Homo sapiens: one gene and its partners. The protein of the gene in region 2 interacts with the protein of the main gene of each other region in a pairwise test. Each region holds a gene or a part of one and is shown on either strand. Other genes may lie near its edges.

Region 1 (4,434 bases), on a different chromosome or scaffold from region 2:
CATTGGACATGTTGTCAATATCTCCTGATTTTTTTTCATTGTTTTCTGCCTTTTTGTTGCTGATTAACATTCATTGTGGATGTATCTTAGTGGTCATTTCTTTTTATTTACTCTGAAATGTGTTGGGTTGTTGAATCTGTAGATTGGCATTGTTCATCAAATTGGAAAAGTTGTCAACCGTTATCACTTTAGATATTGTCTTAGCCTTTCAGACCTTTTTATTTACTCTTTTGTGTCTTTTAAGCTCTATATCATATTTTCCATCTCTTTGTCTCTCTAAGATATACTGTGGATAAATTTCTTTGATTCATAATCTAGTTTACTAATTCTCTGTTCAGACGTCTGTAATCTGGTGGTTAAACCACCTACTAAATTTTACATTTCAATTATTATATTTTCAATTTCCAGGCATTCTATTTGGGCCATTTTTCAAATCTGTTTGCTCTTTCTTTATAGTTTCTTATTCCCTGCATGTTTAAGTTTAAAAATGACTGCATTTCTGCATTTTAAAGCTTATTTCTGACAACTTTAGAGCATACAAGCATAGTTATTTATAGTTTGTGCCTGGTAATTTCATTATCTGAATCCTTTCTGGGTCTGTTTATTCTGTTTTGTGGATTCTTTTGATTTTTTTTCTTGGTGCCTTTTTTCATTACGGATTAAGTTATTTACTTTTTTTTTAATTGTAGGCTGCTCATTTTCCTTGGATTTCACTTGTGATAATTCTTTGAGGACTGGAATATAGGTGCAGAAGATACATAAATGTACTTTTCCCAAGTGTTTTGGAATACTACCAGTTTGGGATCATTCTAAATTAAGTTCTTTGCTTGAGATCTTAAGAACTATTCAGTTAATGTGAGTATGGGCTGTAAATTAGTGTGATACTTGTATTAGACTGTGATTCTACATTCTCAGGGATCATTTTTCCTCTATCACCTGCTCAATACTGAAGTTTAAAAAATGCAAGCCTTTTTTTTTTTTTTAGAAAAAAATTCCCTCTCCCTGCGCTGCCTCCTCTGTGTATGCATGTGTAGTGCACAGCTCTTCGGGTGGCCCAGCTTTATGGTGGAAAGATCTTCTGTGAGACTACTCATCCTGAGTAGGCCTGTTCCCTTTTTCCTATGAGGCCATGGAAAGCAAAGTTCAATTTCACCCCATGAGTTAAATATCCTCAGGACAAGAGCTAGCTGCTGCACTCTCCTTATCTTTTTGAGTTCTTATCTACATTTAGTTATTGGTCTTAAGAATGTCTTACATTCTTACTAGCTCATCACTATATTGCAGGTTTAAAAAATACTTAATCAAGGATTTATGGTTGTTTTGATGGATGGTCAGTATAGATATGTAGCCTGTCCATTGCTGAAACAGAAGTCTATTCATATATTCTGAAAAGACAGATAAGTCTGCCAAAGAAGTTGACATCATCATAAATGATATGGCATACTTGAAATAGTATTCAAATATAGTCTGAATGGTTATGCACTCAGGTAGTTGGTAATATGGATATATTTTGTATTTTTCTTTTCAATTTTTAAATTAAAGTTTAAATTAAAATTGTCTAAGTATAAATGCAGTATTTCTTATAAAAGGTGTTCTTCCATACTTACAATGTAGTCTTTCACTGAGATCATTAAGGGACTCTAGGATCTTCTGTTCTTCAGCTGACAGTGTGCAGATGTTGAATTGTTGAGTTTTATTTAAAGGTAGATTTGATTTCTGTATCTGTTTGCTATTCAAGACAGTCAGAATCTCATCCTCCGGCACTGATGCTTTCACTAAGTTTTCAGCCATCAAAAACTCAGAAGTACTATCTGAAACTACAGAAACTTACATCAGTTATTCTTTGAACCCCTTTTGTCTTTGAGATCAGCCCTTATATATACTTACATATACTTATACATGCTTAACTGTCTGTATGTATTCATATTACAAGCAGAAACCTAGCAAATATCTGCTACTTTGATTTCATTTATCAGGATCCTCTATCTAGCATTTTCCTATCCTTCGTTTTTTAAAAAAGGATATTCAAAATGACGGCAGTGAGTTAATAAAAATTCCCAGAGTATTACTTGAACTAAAGAAAAAAACTATATAATGCAGATAGTTTTTGTCATGTTTGTTATTCATTGGTAGTACAAAAAAGATGAAGAAGACTGTCTTTATAATAGTAGTTATAATGAATTATAACAAAGTAAGACCAAAAAACCCTTAAGATTAGAAACTTTGATGATCAGCTAAACAGAACTGACAGCCTAGAAACAGACCCAATTAGATATAAGAACATGTGATCAAAGAAGCATCAAATATTTGACAGAAGGGAAAGATGATTTTACATATTAGTTTTTGCTTATAAAAGAATCAATTTGGGCTGGGTGCAGTGGCTCATGCCTCTAATCCCAGCACCTTGGAAGGCTGAGGCAGGTGAATCACTTGAGGTCAGGAGTTCAAGACCAGCATGGCCAACATGGTGAAACCTCGTCTGTACTAAAAATACAAAAATTAGCCAGGTGTTATTGTGGGTGCTTATAATCCCAGCTACTTGGGAGGCTCAGGCAGGAGAATCACTTGAACCCAGGAGGTGGAGGTTGCAGTGAGCTGAGATTGTGCTACTGTGCTCCAGCCTGGAGCTCTGTCTCAAAAAAAAAAAAAAAAAAAAGAAATCAATTCAGAGTTTTACTTCCCACTGTTTGTTTAAACAAATTCGTAAGAAATTAAAGACAAACTTAAGGAATCAACCCATTAATTAAAGCAGAAGAAAATGAAACAAATGTTTCTAAATGTCTGTATTGGGAAGGTTCTTTGACAAAGCTTAAAAGTAATGGAGACATCAGTAAGAAAAGACTAAATAAAACATGTTTATTTAAAGCCAGTCTTCCCTAATAGACTTTACACTTCTGAAGAGCAACACTTTTGTATATTTTTTTCATTATTGTAAATGTTAAGTATTCCTTGTCCAAAATGCTTGGGACTAGATATGTTTCAGGTTTTGGACTTTTTTAGAATTTTGGATATTTGCATACACATGAGATATGTTGGTGATGAGACCTAGGTTTAAACATGAAACTCAGCTGGATGCGGTGGCTCATGCCTGTAATCCCAGCATTTTGGGAGGCCGAAGTGGGTGGATCACCTGAGGTCAGGAGTTCAAGACCAGCCTGGCCAACATGGTGAAGCCTCATCTCAACTAAAAATACAAAAATTACCCAGGTATGGTGGCATACGCCTGTCATCCCAGCTACTTGGGAGGCTGATGCAGGAGAATTGCTTGAACTTGAGAGGCGGAGGTTGCAATGAACCAAGATTGCACCATTGCACTTCAGCCTAGGTGACAGAGTGAGACTCTGCTTAAAAAAAAAAAAAAAGAAACTCATTTATGTTTCATATATACCTTATACACATACCTGAAGGTAATTTTATATAATATTTTAAATAATTTTGTCCATGAAATGAAGTTGGTGTATATTGAACCATCAGAAAGCAAAGATATCACTGTATCAGCAACCTATGTGGATTATCTGTGGTTGTTTGGTATCACTGTTATTCCTGACTCCAAATTTATATCTACTGAAAAGCAATAATGTTCTTACACCTATTCACACGTAAGTACTTAACAGTAAAAAATAAGATGTATCCTTCACACTGTCAGAAAATAATGTGTTCAGGGCAACTAAGCACCACAGTAACATCACCAGAATACCTGTGTCGGCTGTTCAACAACAGCAACAAGGAACAATGGCAGGCTTCCAATCTTAGGTATTATGTTACATTTTGACCAGATGGTTACTGTACACTGTATTTTATTTTTTTAGGTGAGAAGAAACATCAGAAGCAGCTGAGGCACAAGGAAGTGGGTCCTCTAGGGATGAGGAAATATTCTGCTAGATGACCTTAAAAAATGTTTCTTCCAGAGACTTTTGCCTCATTTACAATGTCTTTTTTTGTCCTATAAGCCTCTCTTTGATTTTATAAACTGACATAATTTCTTGTTGTTATGAGTGTACACTGCTCTAGTCGTTCAATAAACCCATCACACATTTTCATCATATTGTCAATTGGCACCTTTTTCTTTTTCAGTGTTAACAATGCCATTATCATCACTATTATCACAATCATCTTAATTCAGAGCTCTTTTGGCTATTTCATCATTGGTCAATGAAAACACCTGGAGTCTTATTATCGATGTTAATAACCTCTTTGATATCCACTTCTTCCAGCTTACTGATAGACTCTGAAGGTATATTTTTTTGCTTACGTAATGAGGTCAGACATAATTTTTTCTCACTTGACATACAGAATCCTTCAGTCACTACCTTGTTCATCATCACTGAACATAGTTGCAGGCCAGAGGTTGTGCCAGGAATGCACAATTGTGTCTTTAGTCCCTGTGTTCCAAGTGTTTGCAACAGCATGTATGGCATCTTTCATGCTAAACTC
Region 2 (3,500 bases):
GACAGGGTTTCACCGTGTTAGCCAGGATGGTCTCGATCTCCTGACCTCATGATCCGCCTGCCTCGGCCTTCCAAAGTGCTGGGATTACAGGCGTGAGCCACCGCGCCCGGCCCTAATGAGGCTCTTTGGGGCAAGACAAGGTGGTTGAGTATCTGATATGTAAGTCCTGCTTCCTCGTAAGGGTCTGTGCATATAGGAAGTTCTATGGCCAGAAATGGCTTGAAAATTGCCAAACGTGGTTCTCCATAAGAGCCTTTCCAGGAATAGAGTGTTTTGTTTTAAGACTAGGAAAGAGATCTTTTTTCTGTGAATTGGCCAGTGCAGTTATCAGGAAGTAAATTCCATGCCAAATCTTGGAAATGAACCTGCATGAGAGCAAGGGGACACTGGGTCTTGTTCACTGCTTGGCATAGGGTAGGTGCTTTAAATTTTCCGGCCCAGTGGATTTGTTGGATGAACACAGCATAGATCTGGGTCCCTGAAGGGGATCTAAGCTTTTAAGGAACAGATTCCACCTCCCAATCCTGTTTCCTACTCCACGGGTTGCCTAGAAGGAGGGCGGTGGGGTGGAATGGGACTGACTCTGGGCTACTGTGAATACAGGAGGGTGTGGAGGATTGCAAAGTCCCCGGCCGTCATAAAAGGACACAGCCTCATACTTAGATGCTCCACCCCAGGCCCTCGTAGTGGTTTGGACATCTTTGTCCGGTTACCTGGGTGGCACTGGGGGAGCTATCTCACCCTGGGGATGGGCCCAGCCCCAGAGGGTGTTTCCCCGGCCACCTGCGCCCTGGGCTGTGCCCAGTTGGCCCAGCAAGTTGCAGTAGGCGGGGTGGCCCGGGTCCACCTCCCCAAGCTGGAGCCTGTCATGCAGGGAGCCAGAAAGTTGGGGTCGAGAGGACTGGGGAACAGAGCTTTCAGTCCTTCCTGAGGGAGGCCCACTTCATCACTCCCTGTGCCTCTGTCCCAGACCCCCTACTTCTGGGGTTCAGCCACCCTCCCAGGCCCCAATACGTGCCTAATGCCATGGATATTCTTGATAGCATAGCTGATCTCCCTTCGGAGTTCCTTCTCATCAAACTCCATCTGTGTAGAAAAGCAGAGAAAAGCCTGGTCAGGGCCTGTCCTACTACCTGGGAGGTCAAGACAGGGCCCACCCCACACCTAGGGCTGGGCATCAGGGCCTGTGGGGTGGGGGCCAGCAAAAACACACGCAGAGAGAGTCCTGAGTGAGGGTGGGGGGAGTCCTGAGCCATCCTGTCCCCAGGGCTGCCTGACCTACCTTGACCAGCTCGAAAGGGAAGCGCTCGTGGAAGATTCGGTTAATGCGGGCTCCCCCTGACAGTTCGTAGGTGTCGATCTGATCTCCTGAGCCCTCAATGCGCTTCTCAAAGTCTACGGCGAACTGCTGGACCATCCTGGTGGGAGAGTGGTGTGGCCTGAGGGGGCAGGAGCAGCCCAGCAAAGGGAACCCTGGGAGAGCCCCACGCTGAGAGGCTGGGGGCGGGGATTCAGTGATAGGAGCTGGGGGAGCCTCACTGCAGCAGGGCCTTGGTCTTGCGAGCTGGGTCATCAGGGCGGAAGTTCTTGTATTCCTCCACCTCCTTCTCAATGGACAGTAGCTGGCTCTGCAGCTTGTTCCGCAGCCCCGGCAGTGTGTCCCGGATGTGGTTCGTCAGTTGCTGGGGGTAAGGGTGAGGAAAGGGTTGAGGACAGATGGTCACAGGGCCAGGAAGGGACTTGGATGCCAGGGGACTGTGTGAACGTGGTGAGGTGGAGAGCTATGGAGGGCAGCCCTGCCACTGCTGCCCGGGCCACTAGCAAGAAAACTGGTTCATAGAAGGAGCTTGCAGAGATGTATTAGTTGAATTAATGAGTGCATAATTTTCAATAAAGCCAGAAATCTGGATTTGTATTTGGAATTTCCTGATTTTTGGCCAATTTAATCTTTTTATTTTTATTTATTATTATTATTTTTTTGAGACGGAGTTTCACTCGTCACCCAGGCTGGAGTGCAATGGCGTGATCTCAGCTCACTGCAACCTGCGATCTCTGCCTCCCAGTTTCAAGCAATTCTCCTGCCTCAGCCTCCCAAGTAACTGGGACTACAGGCGTGCACCACCATGCCCAGCTAATTTTTTGTATTTTTAGTACAGGTTTTCGCCTTGTTGGCCAGGCTGGTGTCGAACTTTTGGCCTCAAGTGATCCACCCGCCTCAGCCTCCCAAAGTGGTGGGATTACAGGCATGAACCACCATACCATCCCAATTTAATATTTTTAGACGTGCGTCTGAGGCAGGGGTGGCCAGAGGGCTGCCCCTTGGACCCTCTGGGTTTAAAGCCTCCTTTAAGGTCATTCTCAAGTTCTAGCACTCATGCTCACTAGGTGCCCCCACACAGTATCTCCCTGAACCTTTACAACAATCCTATGAAACAGGTCTGATCACCATTGTCTCCATTTTACAGATGCAGAAATAGAGGCTCAGAGGCCAGGCACGATTATGGCTCATGCCTGTTATCCCAGCACTTTGGGAGGCCAAGGCGGGCAGATCACCTGATGTCAGGAGTACGAGACCAGCCTGGCTAACATGGTGAAACCCCGTCTCTACTAAAAATACAAAAATTAGCCAGGCGTGGTGGTGTGTGCCTGTAATCCCAGCTACCTGGGAGGCTGAGGTAGGAGAATCCCTTGAATCCAGGAGGCAGAGGTTGCAGTGAGCTGAGATCGCACCATTGCACTCCAGCCTGGGTGACAAGAGCAAAACTCCATCTAAGAGAGAAAGAAAGAAAGAGAGAAAGAGAGAAAGAGAGAAAGAAAGAGAGAAAGAGAGAAAGAAAGAGAGAAAGAAAGAAAGAGAAAGAAAGGAAGGAAGGAAGGAAGGAAGGGAAAGAAAGAAAGAAAGAGAAAGAAAGAAAGAAGAAAGGAAAGAAAGAAAGAAAAGAAAAGAAAGAAAGAAAGAAAGAAAGAAAGAAAGAAAGAAAGAAAGAAAGAAAACAAATAAAGAAAAAAGAAATAGAGGCTCAGAGAGCCAGAGAGAGTGTCTCAGAGGGGGAGTGACAAAACTGGGATTGGAAACCAGGTCTTGCCTACACAGACAGACAGTCAGACAGACACACACACACACACACACACACACGCGCGCGCGCGCGCACTTCAGTTCTGGATGCCCCATTCCAGATGGAGAAAAGTCCTGGGGAAGCCCCTGGGATTCCCTGTCAAGGTCTTCAGCCGAGTATACTTGAATCCTGGCCCCCAAACCCAAGCTCTTCCCCATGACACCCTCCACATAGGTCTTGGCCTTCTCTGTGTTGGGGACTTCCAGGGCTTCCCTGGCAGGTCCCAGACAGGGAAAGGTCAGTGAAGCTTTGCTGCTACCTAGCTGTGGGGCTGTGGGCAAGTTGCTTTGCTTTTCTGAGGCTCAGTTTGTCTATCTGCACTACGGAGAGGCTAACCTCTGCTGTTCACTCTCAGAACACACTTAATTTATCCTGTTTTCATGC
Region 3 (4,434 bases), on a different chromosome or scaffold from region 2:
CTCAGTGTCATGAGAAGAAAATGCCTAAATGTTTAGTGGGGTACATACTCCTGAAATAAGGTCATTTCTCAGCCTCCCTCCCCCTTTGATCTATAACCATGTGACTGAAAGCTATCCAAGGAGATGTGAGGGAAGGTTTTGTATGAGGTTTCAGTAAAGGCTTGTTTGCCCTCTTTTCTTCCTTCTGGACTTGAAAATGAAGGCCAAAGCCATAAAGTGGTATTGAGATTGGACATAATGCATTAAGATCACAGAGTGGAAAGAGAAAAAGAGCCTGGGTCCCTGATGGCTGTGAAGAACACCACACGAGCCCTCAACTCTCTACTTTTGGATTTATTTTATGTGTAAGAAAAATACAATGTTGTTTTCTAAAGACATATGTATTTGGGGTTTTTCTAATATGCAGCTGAACATAGTTCTAACTCATACAGGGTCTTTTTGCTTTGAATTATGAAACACTTTTATGTTTCATAACATAATGATACAGAAAATAATAATACACATTATGTACTCACTACCTAAGTTATAGAGATTTTAACACTTTGCTTCTGCTTTCTCTTTAAACAACTATTTTTTTCCTTTTCATAATTTATTTGGCTATTCTGAGGCATTTATTCTAACATATGAACATTTGTCTAATTACATTTCTTTTTAAATCCCCGTTGGGATCCTAATTGGAATTGTATTACATACATGTATCAATTTGGGAAAATTGACTTTTTAATGGTGTTTAGACTTTCTATCCAAGGACATAGTAAGTTTTTGCATTTGTTCAAATTTTATTTTATGTTCAATAAAATTTTATGATTTTCTTTATAGGTCCTGTGGCTTTCTTATTTGATTTATTTAGAAATATCTCACAGTATTAAGCTATGGATTTTTATGTATTGTCTTATTGACTTCTCTCCAGCCCACAGCAAAGCAGAAACAAAGACTCAACAAAAAGCCATGGGGCCTTGTGCAAGAGAGAAAGACCTGGATGCATGTTTACGGAGTAAATTCTTCTGCTCTCAAACACACTATAAAGCTGGGGCTGAGGATGGGAGAAAAGAAAGCAGAGAGATGGATTCGAGGGATTTAGAGTGGGAAGGAGAAAAAGAACCTCCCATTAGGGGAAGCAGGAGTGGAAGGAAGGGACTCTGAGATGAAATGTCCTAAGGGAAAGGCCCTACCAGTCCACCATCACCACAGGATAGTCTGCACATAGAAGTTACCTATGGGAGAGAACAAGGGACCCTGGACATCAAGCGTGGAATGGGGGCATGTAGAGAAAACTCTGCTCATAACCAATGTAGAAATGAGTAGAACCAGTTGAGAATTTTTCTATGTGCTTGGGTTACAGGGGCTGCTGCATTTCCTAAACTTATCAAGCCATCAAAACTCCCTAAGACACATTTTTAAATACTGTCTCAAGGGAACTAGTTTTAGGAGGCTAGGCCATGCTGAAAGTTTATAAGCCAGTGATTGAAAACTCAATTGCCTTCAGTGGCAGTGGTGAAGCCTGTGGCAAAGGCATTCACATTCAACCTCTTAAAGTAAGGGGCTGCTGGACCAAAGCACAGTCTATGGCTTCCATTGACCCATGGGCTACCAGGTCTAGATTTTGGAAGATGATTTTCTGTCATTTCATAGACCAGTACTTTCTAACTTTTGTCCCAAAATGGTGCACATAGCAAATATTTGTACTGGTAGAGTGTGGTAAATGGACAAAATTGTTCCAGGAAGAGGGAACTGGCCCATGGCTTTGCCTCGTACCTCGCTCCCAGCCATACTCTGCCAATTCAACGGTGCAGAGGATTTGTGTCTAAGGTACACCTGTAACCCACCCTCAAACCTCAAACGCCAGTATGCCCAGGCACATGCAAGTTGAGAAGATCTTCATACTTGTTGTTAATTTAGCGATCAGATAAGAGATGTGCTTACAAGAGCAATGGAGAGAATCTTTACCCTTGATCCTATATACTATACGCCAAAAATTCCCCCAACAAACCTTGATCCAGATTGAGATAAAGGTGACATCAATAAATAAAAGATTTGCTAAGAATATTTTCATTATCCCAGCATAAACCCTTATTTAGAATCAATCATTCTGTACTTTTCATTATGTACCATCTACTGAGACTTGGAGACAAAAACTGTGAAAAGCAGACCCACTTAAATGCTACAGCAGACTTCCAGAGACCATATAGTTCTCTCTCTCTCTGTGTGTGTGTGTATGTATGTGTGTGTGTGTGTTCAGAAAATCTTGGAACTTACCTGCTTTGTGGGGGTGAAATCACTTGACTTTAGTTTTGGTTGTCTCACTCCTACCTCACCACACTCCCACCCACCAGAGAGGACTCTGAAAGGGTTCCATGGAGCACAGTTTGCAAGCCACCAAAGTCTAATTCCCTTATTTACAGTTAAGACCCAAAGAGATAAGGATAACCTAATTAGTTAGAGACAGAGTTGTGATTAGAAATGTTAGGTATGAAAATCAATTAGAGAATCCATCAGAAACAAATACATTTATAAATGGCTAATCTGTATAATCACAGTAAGTTTACTCCAAGTTATAGTAGCCTTTAAGTGTTATGTGCAATACAGCTGGCTTCTTGATGTCATTAACCAGCACAAGAAGAAGAGCTTGCTGAGAAGAAGTGCAGTCAGGTGGAAGGCAATTTTGGTGTTCTTTTCCTACCCATTGAGCTTTTAAATATCCTAACCCCCTATCAAATATTCATTCCAGGGAATAATCTACTATTGATTCTACATCTCCATATGAATTCATATTAATATGCTGCTTCTCCTGGGGACCATTAATTATTGGGGAAAAAAACACGATGAGGTTTTTCTCCCCTGATAAAGGGATTTCAGTCTGGTAGTGGAATACCTGGGATCTTCCTGAGCCCCTAAAAAAATAATAACCCCTTCTCAAATAGACAACTGGTCTATTTGACAGACATTTCCCATTCGGCCATTAGGAAAATGTTTCTTCCCAGCACTTGTAAGCAAATTCTGTTGATAAATATAGCCATTACAAAAAACATTTAGTAATCCAGCCAGTCAGCACATGAAATGTTTAGACAGGCGACTTGTAAAGATTATAAAGTGCCTATATCAAGCTTGGCCCACCTGCTCTTTCTGCTTGAATGATTAAGAGGGTTAAATTTAGTTCTAGAAAAAGTTATAGAAAAATTTATTTTTATTGATGCTAGTACAGAAGGATTTTTTTTGATTAGTGATGATCCTCACAGTGTTAAAGAAACCATGATATTCCCCTTAAATTTAACACAATGAACTTTGCTGACTGCCTTTACTACGCCAGGCACTGTGCTACTGATATCATGTGAGTTCTGATTCACTGGGGGTGATGTTTCAAAGCACTGCCCCTCTCTGAAGGGATTCCATGTACTTGTTCACCATCTGCGTAGTATTTGGAATCCCTGTGGCAGACTGTCATAGATTACGGGATATGGAACATTAAAGAGCATAGTCTACTCCATCCTTTCCTCCTTTTACTTTACACACAAGGAAACAGAGGTCCAAGAAATGTGGAATGGCATGTTACACATCTCACTGATGCACACTGGGGAGGCTGTGGGCCACGTGACACCCATGCCATATGCAGCCTCCTTCTGTATTTTTGCAGCGAGTCAGATTCTCCTAGGAGCTACGGACCATGGCACCGGCACCATCTGAGTTAGTGACAGTCATTGTCTGATATCCAGGCTAAGCCACCAAGATGGGAAGCTCAGGTTGGCATCTGAGCCAGGTTACCAACCTGAGGAGCAGCCTGGTGCCATTTCAATGGCCGATGACATGCGGGGAGGGGCTGACTGTGTGGCGCCCAGAAGACTTGCTTTGACAGACCCCTTCCTGGATACTGTATGAGTGTGTAAAAAGCAAAAATTTGGCTACAGCTTGTTACTTGTCCTTGATTTCTATGTGATTGTTTGATAGGAAGGTGCTATTAATACTTTCTTATGATTGGATTCTTTCCCTTAGAGATAATTGGATCTTACTTCGCCTTTCTTGCACATGGATTTGAAGATGAGTTCCCTAGACATATTTTTAGGTTTAAGAGCTAAACCTAAACCTTCATAGGCAATGAAACATCAAGGCCCAGAGCCAATTCTTTTCCTTGTCAAAAACAGAACTTTAAAGATATCTTACAGATATCTTTTTCAAATAAGTTCTGACACTCTCAAGATTAATCCTACACAGCATTTAGGCAATCTTATGCCACCCTGGCAACAATTTGAACTCAAACACTGACCTTGCTCTTTGAGGTTGAAAGGCCCAGCTGTCAGTCTATTTTGCCCATTAGAGCTTGATCTAAAAGAGATTTTTAAATTTTTTCGTACCATGAGCCCTTTTTGTAGTCTCATGAAACCTATTTGATTCAGAATAACATTTTTAAGTAGCGTAGGGTTAAAAAGGAAATGAATTATA
Region 4 (4,434 bases), on a different chromosome or scaffold from region 2:
AGAATACCTTTGTGAACATCCCACGCTGTTCTGCTGGGTGGTCACTGATTGTGAAGATCCCACGCTGTTCTGGTGTGTGGTCACTGACTGTGAACATCCCACGCTGTTCCGGTTGGTGGTCACTGATTGTGAACATCCCACGCTGTTCTGGTGGGTGGTCACTGACTGTGAACATCCCATGCTGTTCTGGTGGGTGGTCACTGACTGTGAACATCCCACGCTGTTCTGGTGGGTGGTCACCGACTGTGAACATCCCATGCTGTTCTGGTGGGTGGTCACTGACTGTGAACATCCCACACTGCTCTGGAGGATGGTCATTGACTTGCTTCTGCTGCAGCTGTTCCAAGTCCTCTCTCTTCTCTCCATCACAGTCCTCCGGCTAAGAAGGGGAGGACCAGAAAGAAGCATTTAAAGCAAGGTCTAGGGCTGCAGCCTCAGGCCCTTCCCAGCTCCTCTATCTGCAGGCCTGTGCTGACTTCATTTAACAAGTAGAGCTCACTTCCACCTGTTCAGAACGTGCACCTTCCGCATTAACAATTCCCAAGCTCTAAACATTTTTTTTTTTTTTTTTGAGACGGAGTCTTGCTCTGTCGCCCAGGCTGGAGTGCAGTGGCACAATCTCAGCTCACTGCAATCTCCGCCTCCTGGGTTCACGCCATTCCCCTGCCTCAGCCTCCCTAGTAGCTGGGACTATGGGTGCCCGCCACCACGCCCAGCTAATTTTTGTATTTTTAGTAGAGACAGGGTTTCACCATGTTAGCCAAGATGGTCTTGATCTCCTGACCTCGTGATCCGCCCGCCTTGGCCTCCCAAAGTGCTGGGATTACAGGCATGAGCCACCACACCTGGCCAGCTCTAAACATTTTTATAATGCAAGTAATTTCCCTAATGATGTTCCTGCCCCTCTTCTTAATGAATTCTACTTTTTTTTTTTTTTTTGAGACGGAGTCTTGCTCTGTTGCCAGGCTGCAATGCAGTTGCACGAACTCGGCTCACTGAAACCTCCACCTCCTGGGTTCAAGTGATTCTCCTGTCTCAACCTCCCGGGGGTTTCACCATGTTGGCCAGACTGGTCTTGAACTCCTGACCTCAGGTGATCCACCCGCCTCGGCCTCCCCAAGTGCTGGGATTACAGGTGTGAGTAACCGTGCCCAGCCTGTAATTTTTTTTTTTTTTTGAGACAAAGTTTCACTCCGTCGCCCAGGCTGGTGGCATGACCTCGGCTCACTGCAACCTCCGCCTCCGGGTTCAAACAATTCTCCTGCCTCAGCCTCCCGAGTAGCTGGGACTACAGGCGCATGCCACCACGCCCGGCTAATTTTTTTTTTCTTTTTTGTCTTTTTTGAGACGAAGTCTCACTCTGTCACCCAGGCTGGAGTGCAGTGGCACAATCTCAGCTCACTGTAAGCTCTGCCTCCCGGGTTCACGCCATTCTCCTGCCTCAGCCTCCTGAGTAGCTGGGACTACAGGCGCGTGCCACCATGCCCAGCTAATTTTTGTATTTTTAGTAGAATCGGGGTTTCACCATGTTGACCAGGATGGTCTCAATCTCTTGACCTTGTGATCTGCCCAACTCGGCCTCCCAAAGTGCTGGGATTACAGGTGTGAGTCACTGCGCCCGGCCATGAATTCTACTTTAAAAAAGAAATTTAATTAATTTTTTGAGACAAGGTCTTGCTCTGTCACCCAGGCTGGCGTGCAGTGGTGCAATCCCAGCTCACTGCAACCTTAACCTCCTGGGCTCAAGTGATCCTCCTGCCTCAGCCACCTGAGTAGCTGGAACTACTGGCATGCGCCACTGTGCCCAGCTTATTTTTTATTTTTTTGTAGAGACAGGGTCTCTGTTCATTATGTTCCAAAGCTGGCCTCAAAATCCTGGGCTCAAGCAATCCTCCCACCTCAGCATCCCAAAATGCTGGCAATACAGGCATGAGCCACAGTGCCCAGATTAGCTTGCTTTAACAAGATGATTCACTAAGAACATTTCAATTTCTTCCCAAAATAGCAAAGAAACATGACAGTGTCGACTTTTCGGGATCATTAGATGAGTCACAAGATGAATGCAGAGAGAGAGCACCCATGGCCAATGATGATGGCAAAACTGACGTGAAAATAAAATCTCAGACAAGTCTTCATTTGACAATACCCTAGATCAATCTTCTCAGAATCAAGAGGAAGTGAGGGACGAAAAGGGGACACAGTAGTCTCAATCAGCTGCCCGCTCACATGAATGATCACACTTCAAAGGAACCTGGACCATCCACTTCCTTAAGAGGACACTTCTAATGTTTGTGTGTCAAAACTTACTTGATACAAAGAGGTTGGATCAAATTTCTTATAAAGTTGTTTTAAATTATTGCTTTATTCTTACTTCTGTAAATTACGTGTAAAACAACTTAAAATGACAAAACAGTAAAACGGCCCAGAAATCTAGATGATAAATGGTGATAACTATTTTTCCTGGTATTTGATACAAATATGAGTTGGAAAAGTGCTAGAACCACACTTCTTAAGCCTTCTATAGCACTAGTTAAATCTTCTTCAGCCAAAGTTTTTGTATTTTCTTCTGAAATTCTTGACCTCTGAGCAATTTTTGGATGGTTCTCTTTTTTTTGGAGATAAAGTCTCGCTCTTGTCCTCCAGGCTGGAGTGCAATGGCGCGATCTCGGCTCAGTGCAACCTCTGCCTCCCGGGTTCAAGTGATTCTCCTGCCTCAGCCTCCCGAGTACCTGGGATTACAGGCGCCTGCCATGAGACCCGGCTAATTTTTGTATTTTTAGTAGAGATGGGGTTTCACCACGTTGGCCAGGCTGGTCTCGAACTCCTGACCTCAGGTGATCTTCCTGCCTTGGCCTCCCAAAGTGCTGGGATTACAGGCATGAGCCAATGCGTCCCGCCAGATGGTTCTTTTACCAAAAAATGGCCTCTCCTCACTTTGTTCCTCATCTGTAACTGAAAGGTCAAATTCTGCTTTCTACCATTGCTTTATTTTTATGATTTTTTTTTTTTTGAGACAAGGCCTTGCTCTGCCGCCCAGGCTGGCGTGCAGTGGTGCCACCATAGCTCACTGTAGCCTCAAACTCCTGGGCGCAGGTGATCCTCCCAACTCAGCCTCCTGAGTAACTGGGACTACACGTGTGCACTGTCATGCCCAGCTAATTTTTATATTTTTCATAGAGACAGAGTTTCAACCATCCTCCCACGTTGGCCTCCCAAAGTGCTCGGAGCCACCATGCCTGACCTTGCTTTCTGCCATTTCTGAGTTAACTTTCAGAACTGAGACAGCTGTTGCATTGTTTCAACTATTTTTCCATCATGCACTTAACAAATTGTAAGGCAACAGAGCCGAATCCTGAATATTTACCACAAAGTCTTTCTGCAATTCTACCTTCGCTTATAACCATCCTGAAAAAAAACTAAGATCTTAAAGTTGGTTAAAAATATGTCTTATATCAGCTGGGCACAGCGGCTTATGCCTGTAATCCCAGCACTTTGGGAGGCCGAGGTGGGAGGATCACCTGAGTCAGGGAGGTCAAGGCTGAAGTAAGCTGATTGGGCCACTGCACTCCAGCCTGGGCGCCAGAGGGAGGACCTGTCTCCAAAAAAAAGAAAAAAGACTTATGCTAGAAATCATCAGTATTTACCTAACAGTTAGTGATCAAAGTAAGCAATTTATTATATGTTGGAAAGCACAATAACTTCTCCCTCCCCCTCACACACACATACACACACTCTCACACACACACAAACACACACACTTATCTTCTTATGCTGTTCAATAAGCTCACTAGACTCTCCATAGCCAAACCTCTCACAATTTATAGATGGGTAAAATAAAACAAATGCACCTTTCATTATGTTTAAAGCACTGGTACAACTATAACATAAAGGTTCCTTGAGGATTCCTGATCTCCGACGCAGCATGACCAACCATCTGAGAGGGGAGTGCCCTGGCCTGGGACATTATTCGGCCACACGGCCACCAGCTGCTAGCTTTAAACAGTGGACTCTTTCCTAGAATTTCACTTTTCAGAAGATCATTATTTTGAACACAAAATTACTCCTATTTTAACATCTACAACTGGATTAAAGGCATACTAAACTCAAATATCATGAAATATTTTATAATACATATGAAAAAAACTCCTTTTTAGACTGAACTGATGATGTACAATGATATAATCAGAAAAAAGTTAATGAAATATCTGCTTCTAAAGCACCAATGGTTTTTATATACATAATTGACAAAATGGCTTAAGAAATTTGATTCCTAACTTAGTGTACAGCAGAAAGACAATGGCTCTATTCTACACATACTACTTAGTTTACCTATACATGTATAAAGAAAATAAATTTTAGCCAGGTGGGATGGCTCACACCTATAATTCCAGCACTTTGGGAGGCCGAGGTGGGAGAATTACTTGAGCACAGGAG
Region 5 (4,434 bases), on a different chromosome or scaffold from region 2:
ACCTGGAGGATGTAAACGTTTCACCAGGAAATTGCAGAGTGGACAATTGGCAGGGGGGCAAAGGTGGGCATGTCAGCAGAGAAGGATGTGCAACTGCAGGGGAGTGGTGAGCACCTGTGCCTGCAGAATATGCAGGGGCAGGGGTGGGAGGTGGACTGTGGAGGTGAGCGGGGTCCACAGGACGGAGCCCCTTGTAGGCCTTGCCCAGGAGCTTGGACTCCAGCTGTCAGGCAGTGGGGGTGGCTCAGGGATCTTTGTAGAAGTGCTGGGACAATTGCATGATCACGGATGGTGCCTTGGTGGCATCAGGGACCCTGGAGTCTTACGTGTGCTCATTTGTCCTGGATGGAAGTGGCAGGGTCTTAGCCTGAGGTCCCCTTCCTTTCCAGGTTTCTGGGTGGAGCGGACCCCTGTGCACGAGGCAGCCCAGCGGGGTGAGAGCCTGCAGCTGCAACAGCTGATCGAGAGCGGCGCCTGCGTGAACCAGGTCACCGTGGACTCCATCACGCCCCTGCACGCAGCCAGTCTGCAGGGCCAGGCGCGGTGTGTGCAGCTGCTGCTGGCGGCTGGGGCCCAGGTGAGTGGCCCTTCAGGGCAGACCCCCAGACTGGCTGCAGCTGCCAGAATGGAGGAGGTTGACTCAGGAGAACTTGGGAAAGAGGGGAGGATGGGGGCTGCACTGTGTCCACTGCACACAGGTACCAGGAAGCCCATGGCTGAGAAGTGCTCGTGGACCTGGCTGTTAGGAGGTCACGGTGGTGGAAGAAAGGGCAGCCTGAGCAAATTGATGATGGGAGTGCCAGCCCTGTGGTGGGCAGGAGCCAGCAGGCTGGCCGCAGCCTAGACACAGGCTCTCTCAGGGGCAGCCAGGCCTGGGTGCAGAGCTGCTGCTTGGGCCCAAAGAGCAGGTTTCCGGCTTTAGGATAACTCAGTGGGATGCTGGCCAGCCAGCTCTCTGAAAAAAGGAACAAAAACAAAACTGTGTTGCTGCTTTCCCTGGTGTAAATGTTCCCACCCTGGCTAGTATTAAGCCACCGGGGGTTTCTGGTCAGCAGAATTCCTGGCACATTGGCAGCCAGCTCTCCCGAGCTGGCAAACACTGGCCCTGCACACCCCTGGCCAATGTATAAGTGACACAGGGACCTGGTCTCAGAGTTCAAGGGGTGAGGAAGAAGGGAAGACAGTGTACTGTTTACTCTTCCCAAAAGGTTGGAATGGAACCGATTTCAGTGTGTACCCAAATAGAATTTGAATTTGGACAAATGCTAAATAAAATTTGCCAATTTGGGGAGTTGCCTTTTTCCTGGCCTCTGACTTTCTCACTAGGGGAGGCGTGGTAAGCTGTCTCAGGCATTCCTTCCATTGAGGTTAGAGTTTTGTGTGTGTGTGTGTGTGTGTGTGTGTGTGTGTGTGGTTTTTTTTTTTTTTTTTTTTTTTTGAGATAAGGTCTTTCTCTGTCGCCTAGGCTGGAATGCAGTGGCGTGATCATAGCTCACTGCAACCTCATCCTCCTTGACTCAAGTGATCCTTCCACCTCAGCCTCCTGGGTAGCTGGGACTATAGGTGCATGCCACCAAACCCAGCTAATTTTTGTATTTTTTGTAGAGACAGGGTTTCGCCATGTTGCCCAGGCTGGTCTTGAACTCCTGAGCTCAAGTGACCCTCCCTCCTCGCCTTCCGAAGTGCTGGGGTTACAGGTGTGAGCCACTGTGCCCAGCTGAGGTTAGGGTTTTTAAAACTCATTTTTAAAGCCTGCCTTTCCCAGCTTGCAGCCTAGGGTTCCCCTGTCCTGCTCTGTGCTTACTAGGTGTTTGGGGCGGGGGTGGCGAGGGGGCTGCTGAGCTTATCCTGCCCTGAGAGAAAAGAATCCTGAACGAGATGACTTCTCTACTCAGGAGGCCGTCGGTGCTCCGCAGCCACGTGCTATCTCTTTCAGTGTCGTTGCCTAGCACATAATAGCAAAGCAAACCGGTGCTTCTAAGAAGCATCTTAGCAAAGATGAACCTGCAGCAGGATGGGAAAGTGGGTTGCGTGGCATTTCTCTGCCCTTTGACACTTGTTTCTTCCTCCCGTGAGGTGGATGCTCGCAACATCGACGGCAGCACCCCGCTCTGCGATGCCTGCGCCTCGGGCAGCATCGAGTGTGTGAAGCTCTTGCTGTCCTACGGGGCCAAGGTCAACCCTCCCCTGTACACAGCGTCCCCCCTGCACGAGGCCTGCATGAGCGGTGAGTTGGCAGACGGCTGGGCTGGCCCAGCTGGGCTCTGGAAGTTTCCTCCTTTCTGGGATTAAAGGGACTTAGGGAAGGAAGCAGAGTAGACAGAATTGGGAGCCCTTGGCTGGTGAAGGAGAGTTCTGAGTCTGTTTCTGGCTCCTGGTGGCTCAGCTGCAGAGATTCTAAGCTTTCCCTTCTTGAGGTCTTCGTCCAGGGCTGGGGTGGGTGACTCTAGGGTAGGATTCTGTGTCCAAGCCAGGGTTCCCTGGGCCTCTCCACGTTAGCAGGGCCTGGGGGACTCTGCAGAGGCTCACTTGGGCTTTGCTACAGTTTGCTCTGCAGGCCCCTGATTGAGATGGGAGACGACAGAGAAACGTGTCCCAACAGCCTGGGCCAGGAGGCTGTGCGTGGTGCTCTCAAAACAGTGCTGGTCCTGCAGGCTCAGGGAGCAGGTGGGACCTCATCTGCCCCCCAAGAATAGGCAGACTGCAGATGCTGGGAAGATAAAAGGGCACCCCGAGCATGGGGAACATTCCTTGTCCTATCTTACTGCATCAGAAGCTCCCAGTGGAGCAGAGAGGACTGGAATTTAGGGTGAGACCAGCTGGTGGGAAGATGTTTAAATGACAGACTAAGGAGTTTAGATTCTACTCTTTCGAGCAGAGGTTGCAAACTGTGGCTTATATCTTGACCGGCCAGCATGGCCTTTGTCTTTGGATGCACATCTGGGGTGCAGGGTATGGGGTATGTGCCCTTCCACGGTGCTGGCAGGGCCATGGCTGCATGTGGCTCACCCCTGATTCCTGCTCGTAGGTCTTTCCATGTCTGCAGGCCATGGGACAGCTCCAGGGAGCTCTTGAAGGTTTCTGAGCAGATGTCGAGGGTCAGGAAAACAGAATTTGGGGAAGGTTCATTTAGTGGTCCTCCATGTGCAGATAGACGGAGGTGCAGTGGTGGCTGGGGTCTCCTGGAAGCAGAGGGATGAGTTGGGGACCATCGCTGAGATCAAGGTGCCCAGTGCTCAGAGTAGGCTGGTGGAGTGGGATGGTTTCATTTAGTAGGGTTGGGGAAGGAATCCATAGGATTTCGTATGAAGGGGAGGCTCAAGAGGTCAGAAATGAGTCAGGTTTGAGTCAGGAGCAAGGACCCCAGGAAAGGGAGAGGGCTCTAGAGTGGGAGACACCGGCCGGTGGCCAGCACATGGCTCTGGGGCTGGGGCTGGGTGTGAGGCTGGTGGGGAAAATTAGGGAGCTGCCAACAGTGAAGAGGTAATTGAGTGAACGGAAAGGTTGGAGCCTAGACGGAATGTGCAGGGGCGGGAGGATGGGGGGCCTGGAACCCCGCTCCAAATCCGCATTACAGACCCAGGAAGAGGAGCCACTTAAGAGGCAGGAGAGGCCGGGCGCTGTGGCTCATGCCCTTGGTAATCCCAGCACTTTGGGAGGCTGAGGTGGGCGGATCACCTGAGGTCAGGAGTTTGAGACCAGCCTGGCACATGGTGAAACCCTGTCTCTACTAAAAATACAAAAAAATTAGTCGGGCACGGTGGTGCATGCCTGTAATTCCAGCTATTTGGGAGGCTGAGGTGGGAGAATCGCTTTAACCCGGGAGATGGCGGTTGTAGTGAGCTGAGATCGCACCACTGCATTCCATCCTGGGCAACAGAATGAGACTTTGTCTAAAAAAAAAAAAGAGGCAGGAGAGGCGGCTGCCGTGGTGCACAGGAGGATGACCTGCATAAGAAAGTCTGGGGGGTTTCCTGGGAGGCTGGGCTCAGTGCTGACAGCCGCAGGTAGACACAGGGCAGGGGGGCAGCGGGGGAGTTTTCCCTGACCCATTCTAGGTGGTGCCCCATGTCTTCTGTTCTCACAGCAAGAAGCCGGCCAGGCCCGTTTCTCCCACTGCCTTGAGCCCTCCGTCCTCAGCGGGGCGCAGAGCCGTGTCCTGGCTTCCTGAGGGCCATGCGGGTCATGAACTCCTCCCTAGGTTGGGACGCAGGCCTGCCTGGCTTCCCTGCCCTGCACCAAGGATGGAGGCTGCTGCCCCTGCCGCGTCTGTGTGCTTGTTGTCTCCAGTGTCCGTATTCAAGGACATTCCCCCCCTTTTCCATTTATCTTAAGGGAGTTCCGAATGTGTGAGGCTTCTTATTGACGTCGGGGCCAATCTGGAAGCGCACGATTGCCATTTTGGGACCCCTCTGCACGTTGCCTGTGCCCGGG
Region 6 (4,434 bases), on a different chromosome or scaffold from region 2:
AGAAAAGCAGTTTTCAAGCCATAACATGTAGCATCTGGAGCTTCTATTGTATCTCAGGTGCGCTCCTTTGAACTGTGTACATATTAGTTCAGTTAAGCCTCAACTATACTATAGGGCAGGTACTATTATTATCCCATTTTACAGATGTGGAAACTCCTTAAAGCACTATACCGTGTGAGAGGTTGTCAACAGCATCACATCTAGTGCAACCTGTCCCACTGGGCAGTGGGGAGACCTGGAGCCCAGGCAAGAGCAGTGGCTTGCTGGAGAGGATACAGCTAGGACTAGGACTCAGACCTCCTGCTCCCTCCTGCCCCCAACCTGGGGTGGATGTTAACTGTCTCCAAGAGGCAGGGGCAAGATGGATTGAGGTGGGAGCTTAGGGAATATCCCTGGGACTTGCAGCTGGTGGGCTCCAACCCTCCTTTCTGCATTTTTGGGACCCAGCCTGTAAGAGGAGTGCTGAGGCAGGAGGTCCCCCTGGGTCCTCAGCTCTCAGGTTAAGTCTTAAGTAGAATGTCGGGGGGATGCTGGACAGGCCTGAGCCCTGACTCCCAGCCTGTGGGGTGGGGTGCATTAGCATTAGCTGGTCCTGGCCCCAGAGCTGAGTCACAGGGTGGAGGGGTAACGGAGAACAGGGTGGGGCCTCTGTTTCCCCCCGACCTCTGCAGCCTTTGCTCCCCATCCCTGGCCTCCTGCCTGTCTGTGGATACCTAACCATTGCAATGGGTTCATTCTTACTCTTTGGGCTCCTCATCAGCAAAAGAGGCCTTTCCTTCCTCTAAGGCCATGGACAGGAAAAGTCTATAGATGCACTTCCACTGTGCCAACTTTCTCGGCAGGTGGAATCCAGGCTAGTTCAGTATCTCCTCTTTAGCTAGGTTCCTTCTGCGGAAGTTTAACTCCAGTTTCTTCACCCTGCTGTTTTCTACCTTTCTTCTTACGGTTCTTCCTACTCCTTGGGACCTTCTTGAATCCCTGTGTCCAACGTCTGGGGGCCCCACACATATGCCTGAAGGACCTGGCATGGGCTCCCTGCAGCAGAAGTGGTGTCCGACCCCCAGCTGTGGAGGACCAGGCAGGAAAGAGGCTGGGAGTCCTGGGCAAGTTCCTGCCCCTCAGGGCCTTGGCCTCCTCTGTACAGTAGTAGGATGGAGGTGGAATCGAGGGTTGGACACCTGATCTTTTGGGCCTTTCTAGCTCTGAAGTCTCTTACTGGGTCCTATCCTGGGCCTTGGGGTGATCCCCCTTCTGCTGCCCAGGGCTGGGCTGTTGAGATGGTGCAGGAGGTGGTCCAGGGAAGGTGGCAGAAGGACTGAGTGGGCTGGGAGCTGGGGAATGCAGATTTCTTTTGGGCGCTGTGTGAGCAGCCCTGGAGACTCTCTGAACTTGAGTCTGTTTGCCTGAAATGCTACTATTAGCCGATTAGCCATGCACTTATCAACTAACATGGATGTTGCCCCTTCTAAAGGCATCCAGAGTTATTCCCAGCATGTAGAGCCCTGGGCCTGATATACAGTAAGTGCTCAATGAATGCATTTAGAATGCACTGGACAATTTGAGCCAGGGAGTGAAGAGAATATTATCTAGACAGCCCTCAAGAGCCCTCCTTAAAGGAGAAGTGGGAAAGCATGGGTATTGAGCATGCTATCTGTGTGTAGTGGGTGCGTTTGCAGTGCTCAGGGGTGTGCTGTCCTCTATGCCAACCCTTCCCTGCTCCTAATCTTCTTTGTATGGTGGATTCTCTGCAGCCCTCGGCGACTGAGTGCCAGGCACAGGCAAACTTCCTTCTCTTCCCAGCAACTGTCCCCACTGGCTTAAAGGCAGAATTCGTCAAGTCCCTTTTAATTCAGAACTGAAATTCATTCACCAGCTGCTTGTTCATTCATTCAGATTCTTCTAAATTGGGTCCTCTGCCCAGGTTCATCTCCACCCCCCATCTGTCACCTGGTTATTACACAACCTCCTCGAGTTCCCTGGGGGCTGGGATGAGGAGGGAACAGGGCGTGCATGTCTGGGAGATACACCAGGTGGCCTTTGAAGAGTTGTTTTAGAATCAGCAGTGTGATGGGGGTGGGGGTGGGGAGCCAGGGCACAGGTGACATGGGAGAGACATTCTGTCAGGGGAACTGGGAGAGGCTCCAGTGTAGAAGTGGCACCTGATCGGGGCCATGAATTATGAATAGGAATCCAGGGGGCAGAGGTAGGAAGGTAGGAAAGAGCCAGGTGAGTTTGACGAACATGGGGGTCAGTGTGGAATGCGTGCAGGGGCCAACTCCCAGAGGTGAGGGCCCCCCAGGCCAGGCAGATTGGTGTGGACCTTGATCTGTAGGTAGTGGAGAGCTAGGAAAGGTGCCCAGCTTGGGATACCTCTTTAGATGCTGCAGAGAACCTGTCAGAGGCTGGGGCGGAGGGCAGGGAGACGTGGCGGGGCTGTTGTAGCAGTCCAGTGAGGGACAGGGTTGAATCAGTTCAGCAGGCCTATATCAGGATCTGCTGTGGGCCAGGCCTTGTTCTGGGTACCAGAGACACAGAGAGGTTGAGGACAGGCTCTATCCTCATTGAATTCATAGTCCATCAAGCAGGGCTGTGACTGGTCACATGTGGGCTACTGGTGGCACTGCACATTTGGAGAGAAGATGATGTGCTTGGTTTAGGAGGTGCTGAGGGTGATGGCTTGGGTAACATCCTGGCAGAGACACCCAGGTGGCTGGAATGTGGGTCTGGGGCTCAGGAATGACGTCCGAGTTGAGCTGATGAGGGTGCTGTCTGCCCTCAAGGGTACAGGGAGCACATGGAGATCAGAGCCCTCACACGCTGTCCTCTGCTCTGCCTATGCCAGGCGCCTTCGCCAAGGTGAAGGAGAGCCAACGCATGAGTGACGAGGGCCGCATGGTGCAGGACGAGGCAGACGGCATTCGCAGGCGCTGCCGCGTGGTGGGTTTCGCCCTGCAGGCCGAGATGAACCACTTCCACCAGCGCCGTGAGCTCGACTTCAAGCACATGATGCAGAACTACTTGCGCCAGCAGATCCTCTTCTACCAGCGGGTGGGCCAGCAGCTGGAGAAGACCCTGCGCATGTATGACAACCTCTGACCGCGTGTGCCTGGGCCCCCTCCTTCCCCTGGGCCTGGTCACTGCAGTGTACCCCACTTTCCCGACCTCCCTATACCAGCAGTGACTGGGGGAGGGGTCAGCGGTGGGGGAGATAAGCGGCCTGTCCTGCCTCCTGGGAGAAGGAGCTTTCAAGGAGTCATGGGTGCCCCTGGGAAATTCCCCACTCCTTAGAAGTGGGGCACAGCAGGGGTGAGAATAGAGTCAGGAGCCCTCGAGGCCAAGGCCTGGGCTGCCGGTCAGTCAGTGAAGGTCAGGCCAGGGTCTCAGCCTCCCCTAGAGCCTATTTTGCTTGCTCACCTGGCCACTGCTGCCTTATCCATTCAGCAGACACCGAGGCCTGCTGCACCCTTGGGTCGGATGCTGGGCACCCAGGGCTGTGACATGCCTGCTCTTCAGGAGTCCTCAGTGAAGGTCGGGGTCAGACACAGACAGAGTCAATGCAGTATGACTGATGTTTAAGTGAGGGATTTCTGGAAGCTCATAGAAGGGACCACAGCATTCCACTGGTCAGGGAAGACTCCATAGAGTAGGCAACATTTGGGCAGTGTTTTGAAGAATGACAAGGGCCTGCCAGACAGTACATGGGGGAGAAGGACTTTCAGGGGAGAGGAACAGCATGGGCAAAGTTATGGAGGCATGCAAACATCTCCCTCTTCTCTCCCTTACTTTCCAAGCAAGTTAGGTACGCTTTCCATGGGGATTCTGGCCTGTGTGGTAGGAAGGGATCTCCCTTGCTCCCATGTTGCTGGCTGTCCGTACATCACCCTGTCCCCTGCAGGAGGGGGCTACAGGCCATCTCCCTCCTGTAGGCCTCTGACTCCCCTCCACTTTTGGGCCCTCAGCTTATCTCGGGCAGGGGACCATTGCAGCATCCTCCCCTCCTCGGACTCAAGGTGCTGAGGTATAAGCCCTGGGCCCCAGATCCCTGGTGACACCTTCCTGGAGAAGACTCTCAAAAGTGACTGTATATTTGAGTTCACCAGCAATAACTCCCCACACTCGAAGCAGGTCCAAACCCAGGATCTCAGGGTCCTTGGGCTCTGTGGCACTGTCTTCCCAAGATCCTTCCTGTTGCACAATGGGAAACCTAAGAGGAAAAAGACAGGGGCCTGCTTGCCCAGCCATGCGAGGGATTCCATGCCCACCTGCCCTCTGTCTGCCTCGCTGGAATGTGGGCCCCTGCTCCCCGTCAGGTTGTGCTGTCTCTGACCTATGTTTACATCCCCGAGGGGTTTCTGCCTCCTCCCCACCCAGGTCAGGGTGTGGTCCAGCAGCTTGCTGTGGGGTGCTGACATGTGTCACCACTGCCCCCCTTGC
Region 7 (4,434 bases), on a different chromosome or scaffold from region 2:
AGGCAGAGGTGGGCGGATCACCTGAGGTGAGGAATTGGAGACCAGCCTGGCCAACATGGAGAAATCCCATCTCTACTAAAACTACAAACAATTAGCCGGGAGTGGTGGTGGATGCCTGTAATCCCAGCTACTCGGGAGGCTGAAGCAGGAGAATCGCTTGAAACTGGGAGATGGAGGTTGCAGTGAGCCAAGATCGCGCCACTGCACTCCAGCCTGGGCAACAAGAGTGAGACTCCATCTCAAAAACAAAAACAAAAACAAAAAAACCCACGAATTTTAAAGGTCCCTGGGCATATTTTCGGAATGAAGGGAAAGACCTAGGAAAAAAAAAACCGGTTGAAGACAGAACAAAAAAGAGGGTAGAGATAAATGAAGGAGCAAGGTTTGGTATTCAGAACACGGTTTGAAAAATTAGCCTTAAAGGAAAAAAGGTGAGGAGGTAACTTTGTTGCTAGGGGGCTGAAAGCCAATGAGTTCCTGACAATGGGTCTGGTTTCCACTTTCTTGTTAAAATAATAAAAACATTTAAAAGTTGATGAGTACTTATCTCATTAAATCCTCACACTAACGCTGTGAGACTAGATGAGTGTTTCTTAACCCTGGCAGCATATTAGAATCACCTCCAGAAATTCTAGAAAAGTTTTTCGTTTTTGTTTTTTGAGATGGAGTCTCACTCTGTCGCCCAGGCTGGAGTGCAGTGGCGCAATCTCAGCTCACTGCAACCTCCGCCTCTCGGGTCCAAGTGATTCTCCTGCCTCAGCCTCCCGAGTAGCTGAGATTCCAGGCGCATGCCACCATGCCCAACTAATTTTTGTATTTTCAGTAGAGACAAGGTGTCACCATGTTGGCCAGGCTGGTCTCGAATTCCTGACCTCAAGTGATACACCCACCTCGGGCTCCCAAAGTGCTAGGATTACAAGCATGAGCCACAGAGCCCAGCCCTTCTAAAAAAGTTATCAAAGTCCAGGCCCCCCTCCAAGAGATTCTGATGCAGTTGGTCTGGGATGAGACCCTAGGCACTCGTATTTTTTTAGGCGAATCTGATGTACGTCTAGGGTTGAGAACCATGGAATGAAGTTCTCTGTTGACTGATGGGAGTGGGGTGGTGGATGGCTACAGGTGGGCGGTAAAGGATTGCTGAGCAGCACTGAGGGCCTAGGTAAAGTCAGAGACCAAGTATTAGTAGTCCCAATCCCCAAGGCTGTGTGACTTTCCAGTAGGGCCCAGCAGTTCTGGGGAGCTTTTTTTTTTTTTTTTGAGATGGAGTCTCGCTCTGTTGCCCAGGCTGGAGTGCAGTGGTGTGATCACGGCTCACTGCTACCTCTGTCTCCCAGGTTCAAGTGATTCTCCTGCCTCAGCCTCCCGAGTAGCTGGGATTATAGGCACCCGCCACCACACCCGACTAATTTTTGTATTTTTAGCAGAGACGGGGTTTTACCATGTTGGCCAGGCTGATCTTGGACTCTTGACCTCAGGTGATCCGCAAGCCTTGGCCTCCCAAAGTGCCAGGAGTACAGGCATGAGCCACCGGCGCCCGGCTGAATTTTTCTTTCTTAAGTAACTGTTTCAAATTTGAGCCAAGCTACTGAAATAAGTTCATCTATAAGCAAATATAATACTCATATTGGAATTATTAGTAAATACTTTATTTACATACTTATTAAAAATCAAGTATTAATATTTAAGTTGCCCCCAGCTAGACGTTTTCAAGGAAATCTTTTCTTTTCTTTTCTTTTCCTTCCTTTCTTTTTTATTGATGCATAGTAGATGTACAGTTTCAAGGTAATGCAATAATCTAATACATTCATATAATTGGTAAAGATCAAATCAGTATACTTGGAATATCCATCACCTTAAATATTTGTCTTTTCTTTATACTAGAACCACTCGAATTCTTCTCTTCTAACTATAGATCTAATTTTAAGTGCATAGAAAGTAGACCATTGGATTGATCCTGAGTAGCAGGGAGGTGGATGCAGGGAGGTGGCCAAAAGAAAAACTGGACCTCCTCAATCCAATGATCAAGCCCTTAGGCCTAATTTTGAGTGTGCAGGGGATAGGAAAACAAACATGAAGCCTAGGAGAAAGTGGGGAGATTAGGGTGGGCTTGAGGGCTTGGGGGTCTGTGAGGAGAAGAACAGAGGAACAGGATTGGCGGAGGCAGGAAGGGAAGGGGAAGGAGGGAAGCTGTGGTCAGTGGATGGGTCTCAGAATCTGCAGAGCTTATAGCGACAAAAGGGCAGGGTGTGGGCACAGGGGTGGGGTCTGAAGCAGAATGACAGAATGTGAAAGGAGCTGAACCCTAAAAGGCCAGAGGGTCCCAGGGTCCCTCACCGACTGGTGCCTTCAAAAAACACTTGAAACAACCCAGCTGTCCTTCAACAGGTGAATGGTTCGACATACTACAGCACTTCCACATCATGGGATACAGGTTGAATATCATTTATCCAAAATGCTTGGGACCAGAGTGTTTCGGATTTGGGAATATTTGCATTAAACTTACCAGTTGAGCATCCCTAATCTGAAAATTCAAAATCTGAAATGCTATAATGAGCATTTACTTTGAGTGTCATGTCAGCGCTCAAAAAGTTTCAGATCTTACAGCATTTTGTATTTTGTATTTTTGGATTAGGGATACTCAACTGGTACTATTTAGCAATACAGAGGAATAAACTATTGATAAACAAAACCACCTGAATGAAATCTCCAGCGAATTATACTGGGTGAATAAAACCAATCCCAAAAGGTTACATACTGTATTATTCCATTCATATAACATTCTTGACATTATAAAGTTACACAAATGGAGAACAGATAAGTTGCTGCCATGGGTTAAGAGGGCAGAGGTGGGGCAGGAGGGAAGCGGGTATAGTTATAAAAGGCCAAGAGGAGGGATCCTTGTAGTGGTAGGATTGTCTGTATCTTGACTACATCAATGTCAATATCCTGTTTGTGCTATTGTACTATAGTTTTGTTAGGTGTTACCATTGGGAGAAACAAAGGAATACGTATTATTTCTTTTCCTTTTTCTTTTTTTCTTTTTTAGAGACAAGGTCTCATTCTGTTGCCCAGGTTGGAGTGCAGTGGCGTGATCCTGACTCACTGCCGCCTCAAACTCCTGGGCTCAAACAATCCTCCTACCTCAGCCTCCCAAGTAGCTGGGACTACAGGCACACACGACCATGCCCAGCTAGATGTATTATTTCTTAAAACTGCATGTGAATCTATAATTATCTCAAAATAAAAGGCTTTATAAAAACAAATTTAACCCTAATCTACTTTCCTAGTGAATAACGTGCCACTCCTTTCCATATATCTCATGAGTGGCCACATTGAACTTATTTTTTTTCCAGAGAGGGTAAGGTGCCTCTTTAAAGCCACATGCACCAGGTGTGGTGGCTCATGCCCCTATAATCTTAACACTGTTGGAGGCTGAGGCGGGAGGATCGCTTGAGGCCAGGAGTTCAAGACCAGCCTGGGCAACATAGCGAGACTCCATCTCTACAAAGATAAAAACAACAAAACAAAGTTTTTAAAAAATTAGCTAAAGCCGCCAGGCACGGTGGCTCATGCCTGTAATCCCAGCACTTTGGGAGGCCGAGGCAGATGGATCACCTGAGGTCAGGAGTTCAAGACCAGCCTGGCCAACATGGTGAAACCTCATCTCTACTAAAAATACAAAAAACTAGCTGGGCGCGGTGGCGGGCACCTGTGATCCCAGATACTTGGGAGGCTGAGGCAGGACAATCGCTTGAACCTGGGAGGCGGAGGTCGCAGTGAGCCGAGATCGTGCCATTGCACTCCAGCCTGGACAACAAGAGTGAAACTCCGTCTCAAAAAAAAAAATAAAAAAAAGTAGCTAAAGCCATATGCAGTGCAACAGTCTCTTAGGTTAGATGCTTGTGAAAACATATTAGGTGAAAACTGCATATAGCCAAAATTACCCTAGAATATCCCTTTATGAAGATGTCATATGGGAGACCAGCATGTCAGCTCTCATTTAAGCCCAGACATAGCCAGGAACGCTGTACTCCGTTTGTAACATGAAGTAACTGGGTTGTATTTAGGGGCTATGTTTTATGAAAACTTATCTTTGGATACCAGAACCCCACTTCACATGATTGGATGCTCACACAAGAATTCAGGGCAACTATAGAAAAGCAGGTGCATGTCTCTCATCTCTCTCTCTCTCTGTGGGGCATAGGTTCATTGAATAGAAGAGTGGGCAGAACAGTCCACACCATTTACATGATCTCTCTTTTTTAGGCTACACATGTATGGCTGAATTTATATGATGCAGTTCCACTGCTATGCTTATCATACAGCAATGAAATACATATCTTTACCTAACTGCTCCCAAGTAGCCTGTGATAACAAGGACCATCTCTTACTTTTTATTTATTTTTTTGAGACAGGGTCTCGCTCTGTTGCATA

The links.
Region 1: the proteins of DNM1 (region 2) and CEP126 interact in a two-hybrid assay, tested with the Homo sapiens proteins (one large-scale study listed by BioGRID and IntAct).
Region 3: the proteins of DNM1 (region 2) and NOSTRIN interact in binary tests that used the Homo sapiens proteins (3 or more experiments, as listed by UniProt).
Region 4: the proteins of DNM1 (region 2) and PCNT interact in a two-hybrid assay, tested with the Homo sapiens proteins (one large-scale study listed by BioGRID and IntAct).
Region 5: the proteins of DNM1 (region 2) and ASB13 interact in a two-hybrid assay, tested with the Homo sapiens proteins (one large-scale study listed by BioGRID and IntAct).
Region 6: the proteins of DNM1 (region 2) and SNX33 interact in binary tests that used the Homo sapiens proteins (3 or more experiments, as listed by UniProt).
Region 7: the proteins of DNM1 (region 2) and PIN4 interact in a two-hybrid assay, tested with the Homo sapiens proteins (one large-scale study listed by BioGRID and IntAct).

The regions. Positions count from the first base shown.
Region 1 is NC_000011.10:101,984,215-101,988,648, reverse strand, and holds part of CEP126 (centrosomal protein of 126 kDa), read right to left. Parts: intron 1,818-4,434; coding exon 1,608-1,817; intron 1-1,607. UniProt on the Homo sapiens protein: Participates in cytokinesis. Necessary for microtubules and mitotic spindle organization. Involved in primary cilium formation.
Region 2 is NC_000009.12:128,220,379-128,223,878, reverse strand, and holds part of DNM1 (dynamin-1), read right to left. Parts: intron 1,683-3,500; coding exon 1,540-1,682; intron 1,419-1,539; coding exon 1,283-1,418; intron 1,087-1,282; coding exon 1,019-1,086; intron 1-1,018. UniProt on the Homo sapiens protein: Catalyzes the hydrolysis of GTP and utilizes this energy to mediate vesicle scission and participates in many forms of endocytosis, such as clathrin-mediated endocytosis or synaptic vesicle endocytosis as well as rapid endocytosis (RE).
Region 3 is NC_000002.12:168,805,051-168,809,484, reverse strand, and holds part of NOSTRIN (nostrin), read right to left. Parts: intron 1-4,434. UniProt on the Homo sapiens protein: Multivalent adapter protein which may decrease NOS3 activity by inducing its translocation away from the plasma membrane.
Region 4 is NC_000021.9:46,330,342-46,334,775, reverse strand, and holds part of PCNT (pericentrin), read right to left. Parts: intron 380-4,434; coding exon 8-379; intron 1-7. UniProt on the Homo sapiens protein: Integral component of the filamentous matrix of the centrosome involved in the initial establishment of organized microtubule arrays in both mitosis and meiosis. Plays a role, together with DISC1, in the microtubule network formation.
Region 5 is NC_000010.11:5,649,006-5,653,439, reverse strand, and holds part of ASB13 (ankyrin repeat and SOCS box protein 13), read left to right. Parts: intron 1-389; coding exon 390-577; intron 578-2,076; coding exon 2,077-2,227; intron 2,228-4,335; coding exon 4,336-4,434. UniProt on the Homo sapiens protein: May be a substrate-recognition component of a SCF-like ECS (Elongin-Cullin-SOCS-box protein) E3 ubiquitin-protein ligase complex which mediates the ubiquitination and subsequent proteasomal degradation of target proteins.
Region 6 is NC_000015.10:75,654,120-75,658,553, forward strand, and holds part of SNX33 (sorting nexin-33), read left to right. Parts: intron 1-2,842; coding exon 2,843-3,096; 3' UTR 3,097-4,434. UniProt on the Homo sapiens protein: Plays a role in the reorganization of the cytoskeleton, endocytosis and cellular vesicle trafficking via its interactions with membranes, WASL, DNM1 and DNM2. Acts both during interphase and at the end of mitotic cell divisions.
Region 7 is NC_000023.11:72,187,776-72,192,209, reverse strand, and holds part of PIN4 (peptidyl-prolyl cis-trans isomerase NIMA-interacting 4), read right to left. Parts: intron 1-4,434.